4 linked regions of the Homo sapiens genome follow. The gene in region 4 interacts genetically with the main gene of each other region. Each region holds a gene or a part of one and is shown on either strand. Other genes may lie near its edges.

Region 1 (3,500 bases), on a different chromosome or scaffold from region 4:
GAATACTTCATTATTTTATATGATGGATGTACAATTGTTCTTATCTAATTTACCACTTTTACAGAAACAGCTGTTATACCCATTAATGGTTCACCTCGAACACCCAGGCGAGGTCAGAACAGGAGTGCACGGATAGCAAAACAACTAGAAAATGATACAAGAATTATTGAAGTTCTCTGTAAAGAACATGAATGTAATATAGATGAGGTAATTTAACTTCATGATTTCTTTAAAACAGTTAAAGTAGATTTAGATGTAAGTTCTCCCTAACAATATTTACTTCTTTTGTTATGAGCATGTTTTTTTTGTAATTAGTGCTAACTCTTTTGCAGTAGCAAAATATTTAGAAAAAATTAATTCGTTATATTTAGTTACTTTGATTTTAAAGAGAGTAGCTCCCTCACTCTGGAATCACTGAAAAGTATATAATCAAGACAATAGTTTTCAAATGTAGTTTTTTTTTTTTTTTATTCCTCTGAGGTTACTGATACCCCTAATGTTTTAAAATACCCTGCCAAGGCTGGGCATGGTGGCTCACACCTGTAATCCCAGCTCTTTGGGAGGCCGAAGTGGGAGGATTTCTTGAGGCCAGGAGGTCTAGACCAGCCTGAACAACATAGCGAGACTCTGTCTCTACAAAATACATATTTAAAAAAATGAACTGGGCATGGTGGCATGTGCCTGTAGTCCCAGCTACTTGGAAGACTGAGGCAAAAGGATTGCTTGAGCCCAGAAGTTTGAGGTTACAGTGAGACATGATTGCACCACTGCACTCCAGCCCGGGCGCCAGAGTGAGACTATGTCTCCAAAAACGAACAAACAAACCAAAAAAGCCCTGCTTAGAAAACTCTAGTGCTCTAGTGTTTTAGTTTAGTGATAAGTGATACCAACATTAAATTTCTGTTTGGCCTTCTATAATTACTCTCTTTCTAAATATTACAGCACATAATGACTGCTGGAGAATACATATGAATTCCCAGGAATTACTTGTCTTGTTCATAGAATGTGGATGTTAGAAGGAATCTTACAAATAATGTATTCAATCTCCTTTTTATAATGAGTAAACAAGCTTCCAGGGACTGATAGCTTATTATTTACAGCGTCTACATTAGACTTTGGGATATCTGGTACTATTGCTTCTTTCCTTTTTACCATACAGTTTTTCTCATAGTTTGTTTTATTGTCCACAATCACTAACACCAGATAGCAGTAAAAAATGTTACATCTTTGAAATTTCTCTGTTAACTTTGGGAAGGAGTGAGAGTGTGGTCCTAAAATCTAGTTTAAGAAGTATTAGAATGATTTATCAAGATATATCATAGTTTTTGCACTATGGCTTACTAATTTCAACAAATATACAGTTGACTCTTGAACAACAGGTTTGAATTGCATGGGTCCGTTTATACACAGATATATTTAATTACATATATTAGAAAAAATTTTGGAGATTTGCAATAATTTGAAAAAATTTGTAGCAAACCGTGTAGCCTACAAATACAGAAAAAATTAAGAAAAAGGCATGTCTTGAATGTACAAAATATATGTAGATACTAGTCTATTTTATCATTTACTATACCATAAAATACATACAAAACTGTAGCTGCAGATGCCTGCTGTTTCAGGCGGACGATTTTTGTTAACAGATGACATAAACTTACTGTAAATGTATTTTGTCTTCTTACAATTTTCCTAATATTTTCTTTTCTCTATCTTTATCATAAGAAGATGATATATTTAGTATGTATATATAGTACATATACAAAATATATGTGAATTCAATCTTTATGTTATTGGTTGGCTTCCAGTCAACAGTAGGCTGTTAGTTAAATTTTGGGTACTCAAAAGTAATCGATAGGTCTGTAGTCTCAGCTACTTGGGAGGCTGAGGTGGAAGGATGGCTTGAGCCCAAGCATTTGAAGCTGTAATGCATGTGATTGCACCTGTGAATAGCCACTACACTTCAGCCTAGGCAATATAGAGAGACCCCTTCTCTAAGAAAATAATAAAAAATAAAAAAGTTATACACAGATTTTTTACTGCATGGGGGATTGACACCTCTAACTTACCCTGCATTGTTCAAGAGTCAAGAGATTAGATTTTGTTTTAAATTTTAATGATCATGTTGTAACTTCATCTTTTTCAGGTGAAAAATGTTTATTTCAAAAATTTTATACCTTTTATGAATTCTCTTGGACTTGTAACATCTAATGGACTTCCAGAGGTAATCTGAAAGGAAATTTAATAAAATATTAATGTTTTGAGACTGTGGAGGGAGGATAATTGTCTAACTTTCTTAGATCAATTTACTGTGTATCACATTTTTTTTTTGCCCAAGAAGAATCTAGCCAAGTAGAATTGTGGTGAAACTAACTTTTGTATAGTAACAAAAAGCTTTTGAGTATATAATCAAATGTATTAGCATCATTTTGTGATTTATACTAGAAATCAATCTTTATTGAATTTTTTCCAAAATCAAAGTATAGACTTTTAAACTTCTAAATACCATTAAATAGCTAAATTTTAATAGCTAAATATAAACCATTAAATTTGCTTTGGTAAGCCTCATTAAGCGTAGGAACCATGATTAATGCCATCAACATTATTGGCATTACTACATTGTGGAACATCTCTTTTGAGGATTTTTAAGAACTGCTTAATTGAAAATACAAATGTATTTGTTGAAATGACTGTGACTATTGCAGAAGTGTTTTACCTTAGTGATATTCCATCCATCTACCTGTTTTGTTTCGCATTTTGCTACAAATGTCTTTCCAATGAGAACAGAATAACTGAGAGCTTTGCATGGTAAGACGAAATATGTGGAGAAAAGGATGCTGTGATAGATGATGAAGAACAAAACCAGTGTTTTAGAAGACATAGTATTAGTCACTATGACCAAAAGGCATGAAATAAAATAGCTAGACTGCTAGTTCTGTAACCTGAATTGATAGCTAGTTTTTGAATTAATTTATTAATTCAACAAATATTTTTTGAATGCTTAATATATGTCAGGCACGTGCTAGATACTATGGATACAGAGATTTCACTCTCAGTCACTATCCTTAAAGTGCTAGTGGGAGAGGCTGACAAAGAAATAGAGCATTACAGGAGTCTACAAGAGTGTGAAAAAAGTATTCACAGGGTTCTGTGATATCTCAAAGGAGAGCTACCTAATCCAAACTAGGGCTGATAGGTTTTGTGGAAAATAGTTTAGAGGTGATGTGATTTCAAATCTGAGTAAGCATTACAGATATAGCATTTCCAAGGGTTGGACATTGTAGATTCAAAGGTGCAGTGATGTATGATAGTATGGTCTGATCAGTGAACTCTAAGTAATTCATTAAGGTTGGGATACAGGGCAGAACAATTAAAATATGGTACTGAAGAGGCAAGAAGGGACCAAATGTTATATTAATGAGTCTTGTTACCACTTTTGGTACCAAAAACTAGGCTGTTCATAACTTTAAAATCTGTTGTAGCAATCTTTTTTTCTCCTTTAA
Region 2 (3,500 bases), on a different chromosome or scaffold from region 4:
TCCTCAGCAGACTTGCTTGTATATCTCTTTGCCAAGAACTAGGTCATATGCAGAGTTAGTTGAAGTTAAGTTTGGCTGTAAGTAGTAGAAAAACTCTAAATAACAGGGGCTTAAATGAGCTTGAAGTTTCTATCTGACTGATGACCAAAATGTCTGGTGGCAATCCAGGCTGCTGTGGCACTTCATGGTGTCAGGGTCCCAGGCTCTTACCATTATGCGCTGGTTGTATCCTCCATTCTACCCTCCGTGTCCCCCAGGTTACCTCAGGTCCCCAAGTTGGCTGCCGAAGCCCCAACCATTATAGCTCCATTCCAGACAGGAAGGAGGGAAGATAAGTGTGACCCCCATCCCTATAAGTTGCACAAAACATTTCCACTTGGATTTTATTGGCCAGATGTTAGTTTTATAGTCACATTCAGATGCAAAGGCAATTCAGAAATGTCTTTTCCAGGGGTCATGTGTACAGCTGAAAACCAAGGATTATGAACAGCAGTATAGCCCCATGCAGGAGCTCCTAACTTGGGGATCATCTGCAATTCCCAGGCAGGTCCATGAATTTGGATGGCAAAAATAACATCTTTATTTTCATTAACCTTTAACTTACATTTAACTTCCCTTCTGTTATAGATTATAATATCACTATAGTATATCATAGGTAGCGTTAGCAAAACCTGTGACTTACCAGTGGAAATCAGGAGTTGTGTTCACATGTCATTTCTGCTATTATACATATCTTCTAGTGTTGTTTATGTTCACCTCTTTCAAAATTGCGTTCATTATTAGACCTGCTAAGGGGATTCATGGCACCACCCCACCCCTCTACAAGAGAAAAACCAAAAAAAGCCGGGTGCAGTGGCTCATGCCTATAATCCTAGCATTTTGGGAGGTCGAGGTGGGAGGATTGCTTGAGCTCAGGAGTTTGAGGGCAGCTTGGGCAACATAGTGAGGCCTCATCCCTACAAAAAGTTAAAAAACTAGCTGGGCTTGGTGACACCTGCCTGTAGACCCGTCTACTTGGGTAGCTGAGGCGGGAGAATCACTTGAGCCCGGGAGGTCAAGGCTACAGTGAGCTACGATTGTGCCACTGCACTCCAGCCTGGGTAACAGAGTGAGACCCTGCCTCAAAACAACAACAAGCACAACAAAAAAGAAAAAACAGAGCAAATATGAATCCATAGTACTGGTTAAGAACCTGGTGGCTGGGATTCAAATCCTGGCTTTACTACCAGTAAGCTGTATGCAGTTAAGCTCCCTGTGCCTTTGTGTTCTCTGCCTCAAGACGGGGGATTCTGTATTTCCCTCATGGGATTGTGAGGGTCAAATGAATTAAAACATTAAAGCCTGGGGCATAGTAGAGACTAAGGAAATATTTACTGTTATTATTCTGTCATGGTGAAAAAAGGGAAAAGAAACATCAGTGGACCAGCTGCCACGATGTCCTTCTTAATAATCTGAACAAAATCAGGATGCTGTCAGTGAGGCGTGGTTGCCACGGCTGCCATTATTAATCTTCCCCTGGTGCTAGGGTGTCCCTGTAGAATGTCATTTTGTACTCAAGACAACCCTCTGAGGGTAGGTATTCTCATCATCCCCACTTCACAGATGAGAAAATTGAGGCTCAGAAAGGTACAAGGATTGCCCAAGATTCCACAGCTAATATGTAAGCAGTTTAGCCTTGAACCTGGACAGTGCAGCTCTGTAGTACCACCCTAGGCCATCTTTCTCAAGCATTGATGATGCTGTCTGCCTGAAGAAACACTTTTAATGAAACCAAAAGCAGAATCCCAAAGAACAGCAGTGGAAGGAAGGGAGCTCTCTGGATGGGAAAGCAGCCTGATTGTCATGGGCCCACCTCTTGGGCATCCCCAGCTTCAAGTTGGGGTTCCCACGACCCCCTCTTTGGGTTTGATTAATTTGCTGGAGCGGCTCACAGAACTCCAGGAAACACTTAGGTTTACCGGTTTATTATAAAGGATATTCCAAAGGATACAGATGAAGAGGTGCATAGGGTGAGCTATGGAGGAAGGGGCGGGGAGCTTTCGTGCCATCCCTGGGGATGCCACCCTCCAAGAATGTGCATGTTCTGCTATCAGGAAGCTCTCTGAATCCTTTCCTCTTTGGTTTTTATGGAAGCTTCATGATACAAACATTTTTGCCTAAATGACAGTATGATATTGAAATTGAGTCAGGCTGCCTGGCTTCATTGCTTTCCAGTAAGTGACAGCCTCACCTCTGTGCATCAGTGTCCTCACTCGCCTCTGTGCATCAGTGAAGTGGGGACGCTGCTAACAATACATACCTCAGAGCAGTTATGAGGATTCAGTGTGTTAATCATCCATGTCAATCACTTGGATTGCTGCCAAGCACGTAGCAAACAATAAATGTTTGTTGCTATTGTTCTGGCATTTATGATTATGATTATTAATTGTAATTATTCCCTGTACCATCTCATTGTCCTCAGGGCTGTTGCTCACCTAGTATGGCCCTAGCCCATGTGTATATTTCCCCATAGCTCAGGCTGAGAGAAGAACACACAGATCAACTTGGAGAAAACAAAGAGGAAAGAAATAGGCAACTAGGTCAATACTCCCCACAGTATTTTATGTTATTTTATTTTATTTATTTATTTATTTGAGACAGAGTCTCACTCTGTCACCCAGGCTGGAGTGCAGTGGCACCATCTCGGCTCACTGCAAGCTCCACCTCCCAGGTTCACGCCATTCTCCTGCCTCAGCCTCCCGAGTAGCTGGGACTATAGGCGCCCGCCACCACGCCCGGCTAATTTCTTTTTGTATTTATGGTAGAGACGGGGTTTCACCGTGTTAGCCAGGATGGTCTCGATCTCCTAACCTCATGATCCGCCTGCCTCGGCCTCCCAAGGTGCTGGGATTACAGGCATGAGCCACTGCGCCTGGCCTCCCCACAGTATTTTATTATGAAAGTTTTCAGACATGCATAACTTTGGAAGACTAACACAAGGGTCAGCAGACTACAGTCCATGGGTCCAATTCAGCCCACTGTCTGCTTTTGCAAGTAAAGTTATTGGAACACAGCTATGCCTGTTTGCTTCTCTAGTTCTGGTTCTATGGTTGTTTTCAGTGCCACGCAAGCAGAGTTCAGTAGTTAGGTTTGCAAAGCTGAAAATAATTACTGTCTGGCAATGTATAGAATAAGTTTTGCTGACTTCTAGCATAGTGCAGTGAGCACCTCTATACTTACACCCCAGGTCAGTGATTGTTAGTGTTTGCTATATTAGTTTTTTATCTTTCTATAGGTCTGTCTCTATATACGTTTTATTTTTTAGCTGAAAATCAGTTGCAGGTTTTGTAGTACTTTATCCTGAGGTCCGTTTAATGCCAGAATGGTGAGTTTTTGGACTACCTGTATGAAAGATTTACTGTGTGCATTTTTCTGAGGAGAGACCATCACAACACTTCATCAGATGCTCATCGTCTGTGATCGCAGAGATATTCTTCAACTCCTGGACCGGAGAACCCAAC
Region 3 (3,500 bases), on a different chromosome or scaffold from region 4:
AGAGCAAGCTTCTTCTCAAACAGTAAAATGCTATAAATCACCTGATTGTGTAGGTCAGGAGAGGGGCCTGAGATTCTGTGATACGTATGTCTGCATTTCTAACAAACTCAAGTGTAGCCAACATTGCTCATCTTACTGGACATGGATCATACTTTGAATAGCAAGGTCTAATGAACATAAGAAAGGTAAAATTCAAATGTTCTAGGGAACAAAGTGGGTTCAACATGAAAAGTTTAACGGGAAGAATTAGCTTGATCTTGTCTAGGAACAATGAGACCACCTGACAGAATGAAGACCCATTCTTTCTTTATTTTTGTTTTTTTTCTTTTAACTCATCTGTATTTGTTACAACTTTAAGCAGAATGTGACTCAGGCACTACATTTCCATCCACAAGACTAGCTCTGAGTTATTTTTGAACAGCTTTACGACATGCTTAGGTAGGCTTATAACTTTGCTCCTCCAAATGATACTTTTCTTTGGAAAACAAGCCCTGTGGAGGGCTTACTTTTCTTTGGAAAACAAGCCCTGTGGAGGGACTGCTACATTACAGATACAGAGGAAGTGATGAAACAGGTCTAAAGGTAGGAAAGGAAGGGTTCAAAAATACAAGAAAAATTGGTCTTGGCCACTATCAATGTGCCAGGAAGGAACAAATGTGTTAAAACATCAGGCTAAACATAGGATGAGATTAATCTCTGGGTTCATCTACATCTATATATGACTGAGAATGGTCATGAGAGTCGGGACTGGGTTCTACCTTGCTCACCTATATAATATCTTATATAGGTTACTGCAATATACCCCAGCATGTAGCAGGGCTAGACCTGGCATGTGGTCGGCAATCAATAAATATTTGTTAAATGAATGAAGAACAGAATACATCTGGAGTATACAGATTCAAGTTAAACTATATGGAGAATTTTTAAAAAAACAGAGTAAGTCGATTAAGTCACATTTTTTATTCAATATGTGATGATGAAAGAGAACAATTTCAAAGAGAAAGAACTTCATGAACAAAAGCAAGGTCATGCTTACTGCTTTGAATAAGGATGTGACTCTAGGTCTGTCTTTAGCATGACTTTTTTTTTTTTTTTTTTTTTTCTGAGACGGAGTCTCGCTCTGTCGCCCAATCTGGAGTGCAGTGGTGCAATCTCGGCTCACTGCAAGCTCCGCCTCCCCGGTTCATGCCATTCCCCTGCCTCAGCCTCCTGAGTAGCTGGGACTACAGGCACCCGCCACCACGCCCGACTAATTTTTTGTATTTTTAGTAGAGACAGGGTTTCACCATGTTAGCCAGGACGGTCTTGATCTCCTGACCTCGTGTGATCTGCCTGCCTTGGCCTCCCAAAGTGCTGGGATTACAGGCGTGAGCCACCACACCTGGCCTTTAGCATGACTTATTAAAGAAAAAACTAAGTAGTCTGAGGGGCTGGAATGTACAGTTCCTACAAAGCTTGGAAAGAAAGGAAATAAACCTGAACATAAATGCAAGAAACAAGGACAACATTTTGGTCCTTCAATTCAATGGAAAGTCACTGAAAACATCTAAGGAAAGAAGTTAAAATCTGAATGTTCACGTTAAATAAACGTTTTAATAAAAGTATGAGGCCGGGCACGGTGGCTCACGCCTGTAATCCCAGCACTTTGGGAGGCCGAGGCGGGCGGATCACGAGGTCAGGAGATCGAGACCATCCCGGCTAAAACGGTGAAACCCCGTCTCTACTAAAAATACAAAAAATTAGCCGGGCGTAGTGGCAGGCGCCTGTAGTCCCAGCTACTTGGGAGGCTGAGGCAGGAGAATGGCGTGAACCCGGGAGGCGGAGCTTGCAGTGAGCCGAGATTGCGCCACTGCACTCCAGCCTGGGCGACAGAGCGAGACTCCGTCTCAAAAAAAAAATAAAATAAAATAAAATAAAATAAAATAAAAGTATGAATGGTAGACTGAAGAAGGCAGGGGAAAACAATATTAAAATAACCTGCATAAGATATTAGAACATAAATTAGTATAAATAATAAAATGGAATACATACTCATTCATTTATCCTACTTTGTGAATTAACAGGTTCAGCACTGGAGATAAAACAGGTGAAAAAGCATAGTCCCTGCCCTCAGTAGCATACATTCTGATGAGGAAAACAAAGAAGAAAACAAACAAGATAGTTACAGGCTGTGGAAAATTCTAGAAATATAGGGTGCTGTGATGGAAAGTAAGGAGAAGAACAAGTCTATAATTCTATTTTGTACATGTTAAATATGAGATGCCTATGAGATATCCAAATAGTGACGTCAAACAGGCAATGGGTATTCAAAAGAGGCATTCAAGAGCCATTACTGGCAGAAATATAAATCTAGGACTTATTAGAATATAAATATTTAAAGCCGTGAGCACAGATAAGAATACCTTAAAGAATACTACTATAATTACTGCAAATAAAGCAGCAGCAAAGCTTAAATGGTGACTTATTCTGTCCCAGACATTGTTCTAGTTATTGACATATATTCAATCCATTTAAAGTCTCAAAACAATTCAGATGAGGAAAATGAGGCACAAAGACTTGCCCAATGTCATGCAGCAAATTTCAGAGCTGGGATTCAAATCCAAGCAGTCTGGCTCCAGAGCATGTACTTTTATCAACTTCGTTACACTACCTATGTCAAGCAGAGACTAAAAGAAAAGCCAAAACCTAAACCATGAGGCACTCCAATATGCACAGATGGAGAAGAAACATAAAAGGAAAGGAGTAAGTGGCCTAAAAGGAAGGATAGTGATTGACTGGGGTCACACACCAATAAGAACCCTCAGGATTCAGGTATGAAAGCAAAAGAAAGAAACCATAAACCATGAAAATTGATAGGGATAGTGGCAATCATTTTGTGGATGAGAAAATGTACCTTTGGAGTAAAACAATCATAGAAGTGTTGTTAGTTACTGGTGGATGCAGACTGGAATGCATGTCTCCTGATTACCAGGAGCACTGAAGTGCTCTTTCTACAATTCCAATCTACATTAGCAAAGTTAGCATTCGAAATGATTTGAGAAACATTAATAAGGATGAGAGTGGTAAAGACACAGTAATCTGAGTGTTTACGATGACACAGGTACTATACTAAACACTTTAAATACCTCGGAATTTCATTCTCACAACCCTTATGAGTTACTACTTTATCATCATCCCCATTTTACAAAGGATACACCTGAGGCCTAGAAAATTTAATAACTTCCCCAAGGTCATGCTTACTGCTGGAATAAGGATCTGAATCCAAGTCTGTCGTCAAGATTCTCTTGGCTAGTATGTAATATTGCTTTCCTAAGAGTAACACTGTTCATCAAGACAGAAATGAAGAAAGAAAGAAAGAAAGAAAGAAAGAAAGAAAGAAAGAAAGAAAGAAAGAAAGAAAGAAAGAAAGAAGAGAAAGAAAGAAAGAAAGAGGGAGGGAGGGAGGGAGGGAGGGAGGGAGGGAGGGAGGGAGGGAAGGAAGGAAGGAAGGAAGGAAGGAA
Region 4 (3,500 bases):
AAAAATTCTGAAAGGGAAGAGAAATTTAGGAAACTGAATGAACTTCGGTATGGTTGGAGCTTAGAATATAAGACAGGCAGTGACAGGAGATGAAAGGAGGTCAGATTAATATGCAAGGCCCAAATCATGTGAAGTCTTATAAATCAGGTCAAAGTCTTTTTTCTAGAAGAAATGAAAATCCTGCCAGGTGCAGTGACTCATGCCTGTAATCCCAGCCCTTTGGGAGGCCAAGGCACGAGGATCACTTGAGGTCAGGAGCTCAAGACCAGTCTGGCCAACATGGTGAAACACCATCTCTACTAAAAATACAAAAAATTAGCTGGGCATGGTGGCGTGCAACTGTAATTTCAGCTACTCGGGAGGCTGAGGCAGGAGAATCGCGAGAATTGCAGGAACCCCGGTAGGTGAAGGTTGCAGTGAGTCGAGGTCATGCCACCACTGCACTCCAGCCTGGGTGACAGAGCAAGATTCTGTCAAAAAACAAAACAAACAAAAAAAAACAAACCCATATCATATAAAATATAATATTTGATATATCGCATCATTTTTTCTGGCATGAATAAAGCAAGAACATCTAACAGTATACTTTAAATGTGTACAGTTTATTTTATGTTATCTCAATAAAGCTGTCTCTTTTAAAAGGATAAATGAGATGTATTAATGACTAATACAAACTAGTATAAAGCCTTACTTCATCATCAATCTTCATCTGGAAATCTTCCTCATTTTCTTCTTCTGGAGCAAAAAAGGATTTCTCACCATAGCCAGCATCCTGGAAGAGGACAGATCCATGCATAAATCAGTCAGTTAAAAAACACAAAGCACAAGTTTTTTTTTTACTGAATACAAGTACAGAATACCAAAGTCTATTTTGCATAGATGGATTCCATAAAGTCTTCACTATATCTAACACCACGGCACATCCTTAAGCTATAAGATACATTACAACATGCCAAGGAGCTTACTAGCTGATATACAGATAGTTACAGCCCATAAGCAAGCTGAACAGAGATGCTCAATAACTGAGTCTCATTAACTCAGTGGGACAGAGCTGTGCTGTCACACCTCAGCTGGACCTTTTCTCTTTTGGCCTTATAAGAATTCTGTGCTTCTCTAAACCACACATTCAGCACCATCATCATCTCTGCCTACCTGAGAGGCTGACAAGTACTTTCCCTGCTTATATGCTTATCTTGCAAAGAAGAGATTAAAGTCACCCAGTCACCATTTTCAAAGCAAAACAATATGCCCAAAGTTCCTCATTATGCCTTCCCACTGATACTTAGCTACACTATAGTTTTTCTCCAGAACTGATGTACGTAGAAGTACTTTATACAAATTGAACTTTTTAGTAATTGGTAATAATCTAGTAAACCATCCTCCCTAAGCCAGTCAGAGAAAGAATCTTCTCTCTCATCTCTCTGGGGGGAAGAAAAAAAAAAACAAAAAACCACAGGCATAAGTGGTGTCTAAGAGGAAGGTGTTCACCTTCAGTCGTTGCTCTGCAGCTATCATGCTATAATAAGCACAGCACTGCTCTGGTGACACCATAGCTCTGATCTCTTCTTCCGTTGGTAAACGAAAATCAGACTTAAGCACCCACCAGTTTGAGTCCATCCCTGGAAAAGACATATACATAGAGAATGAGACCATTCTGAATTCCAAAGGCCCTGATATTTATTGACAGCAACAGGGACAGCAAACCAAAACTGTAACAGGCCTAGCCACAGTTGGCATGACTGGCCAAGAAAACCCCAGCTGCTAAGTTTCCTACAACTCATAGAAGATATCCAACAATCACATTAAACTTCCTGGCAGCCAAATTCAAAAAAGCAACCAGAGTGTTAGAAGATCTGCTACCTCCTTTCAACAGCCATCAATTTCTATTTTATTAACTATATGCTTATCCTTTAACTCAAAGCCATCAAAATTCTTTTCTTGGAAAAAGGCAGACAAATAACTAGTCACAACAGACGACCTGTGCGTTTGAAGTCAGCGCAGAGCTTTAGCCTCTTCCGGATGCTGCTTTCTGAATGGGAAGGAAAGGCTTTTTTTATATCTTCCATTCGTATCCTCCGTGGCCGATCTTTACTTTTCCAGAAAAGGCGGTAAATAAAAACCTGCCCAACAAACCAAGTGTATTTTATTTGGCAAAGAAAAGGATAAAAGTCCTCACTAGGGCCTCTTCCTTTGCTAAGCTCTAATGTATTTTCATCTTTCCCGATGTGCTCCCAAACCCACACAGCCTACTTTTTCTGAGACGGAGTCTCGCTCTGTCACCCAGAGTAGAGTGCAGTGCCTTGATCTCAGCTCACTGCAACCTCTGCCTCCCGGGCTCCAGTGATTTTCCTGCCTCAGCCTCCAGAGTAGCTGGGACCATAGGCGTGCGCCACCATGCCTGGCTAAATTTTTTTTTTTTTTTTGAGACTGAGTTTCACTCTTGTTGCCCAGGCTGGAGTGCAGTGGTGCGATCTCGGCTCACTGCAACCTCCGCCTCCTAGGTTCAAGCGATTCTCCTGCCTCAGCCTCCTGAGTAGCTGGGATTACAGGCATGTGCCACCACGCCTGGCTAATTTTGTATTTTTAGTAGAGACGGGGTTTCTCCATGTTGGTCAGGCTGGTCTCAAACTCCCAACCTCAGGTGATCCGCCCACCTCGGCCTTCCAAAGTGCTGGGATCACAGGCGTGAGCCACCACGCCCAGCTAATTTTTGTATTTTTAGTAGAGACAGGGTTTCACCATGATGGTCAGGCTGGTCTCGAACTCCTGACCTCAAGTGATCCATTCACCGCGGCCTCCCAAAGTGCTGGGATTACAGCCATGAGCCGCCATGCCCGGCCCCAACATACCCTTTCTGTATACAACCCAATCCCCTCCCTATCCTCCCATTCTTACCTGTAGAAAGTCTCGAATATGCGTATTGGCCCTTTTGGAGTTAGGCCCAGGAACTTCAAACAAGGGACACTGCTGGCCAACCACAAAAATATCCACTAATTCCCGAATATAGTAACCCTGTCTTGTCCGAATGATCAAGAAATCAGTTTCTGGCATCTTATGAAGATAAATTGGAGCACGAAAAAGGTTGTTCTCAAATGCCTAACAAAAGTAAAAACACAAAAATTATATACAGAGTAGCCCTAGGAAATTCAGTCAACTGCTGAGAAAGAAATACCAAGCTTATTGCTCTCCATCTTAATTACGCCATCTAAGGTCTATCCAGTAATACAAATAAATTAAAATATAGATTATCAAATGTGACTAAACAATTTTTCATCCACTATCTTTCAGAGTCAGTAGGGGAGAAAATACAGGATGTGAATTCAGATGATGCTAGCTCTGCCATTACCTCTATGATTTAACATGTCTATTTAAGCTATTTAACATGTCTAAGTTTAGTTTTCCTCATCTACAAAACAGAGATACTTAAAAATGCCTATACCTCACAGGACTGCTATGAAGATTACATATGAAAATCACTTCATAATGTACCAAGTACTATA

The links.
Region 1: of TAF1 (region 4) and RB1, changing one suppresses a phenotype caused by changing the other (phenotypic suppression), as found in Homo sapiens cells (one study listed by BioGRID).
Region 2: changes in TAF1 (region 4) and PPP2R1A together harm fitness more than expected from each alone (negative genetic interaction), as found in Homo sapiens cells (one large-scale study listed by BioGRID).
Region 3: changes in TAF1 (region 4) and EIF3H together harm fitness more than expected from each alone (negative genetic interaction), as found in Homo sapiens cells (one large-scale study listed by BioGRID).

What each region holds. Positions count from the first base shown.
Region 1 is NC_000013.11:48,362,751-48,366,250, forward strand, and holds part of RB1 (retinoblastoma-associated protein), read left to right. Parts: intron 1-64; coding exon 65-207; intron 208-437; exon of another isoform or gene 438-2,143; coding exon 2,144-2,221; exon of another isoform or gene 2,222-2,226; intron 2,227-3,500. UniProt on the Homo sapiens protein: Tumor suppressor that is a key regulator of the G1/S transition of the cell cycle. The hypophosphorylated form binds transcription regulators of the E2F family, preventing transcription of E2F-responsive genes.
Region 2 is NC_000019.10:52,196,552-52,200,051, forward strand, and holds part of PPP2R1A (serine/threonine-protein phosphatase 2A 65 kDa regulatory subunit A alpha isoform), read left to right. Parts: intron 1-3,500. UniProt on the Homo sapiens protein: The PR65 subunit of protein phosphatase 2A serves as a scaffolding molecule to coordinate the assembly of the catalytic subunit and a variable regulatory B subunit.
Region 3 is NC_000008.11:116,749,324-116,752,823, forward strand, and holds part of EIF3H (eukaryotic translation initiation factor 3 subunit H), read right to left. Parts: intron 1-3,500.
Region 4 is NC_000023.11:71,386,857-71,390,356, reverse strand, and holds part of TAF1 (transcription initiation factor TFIID subunit 1), read right to left. Parts: intron 3,097-3,500; coding exon 2,896-3,096; intron 2,121-2,895; coding exon 1,979-2,120; intron 1,620-1,978; coding exon 1,489-1,619; intron 773-1,488; coding exon 692-772; intron 1-691. UniProt on the Homo sapiens protein: The TFIID basal transcription factor complex plays a major role in the initiation of RNA polymerase II (Pol II)-dependent transcription.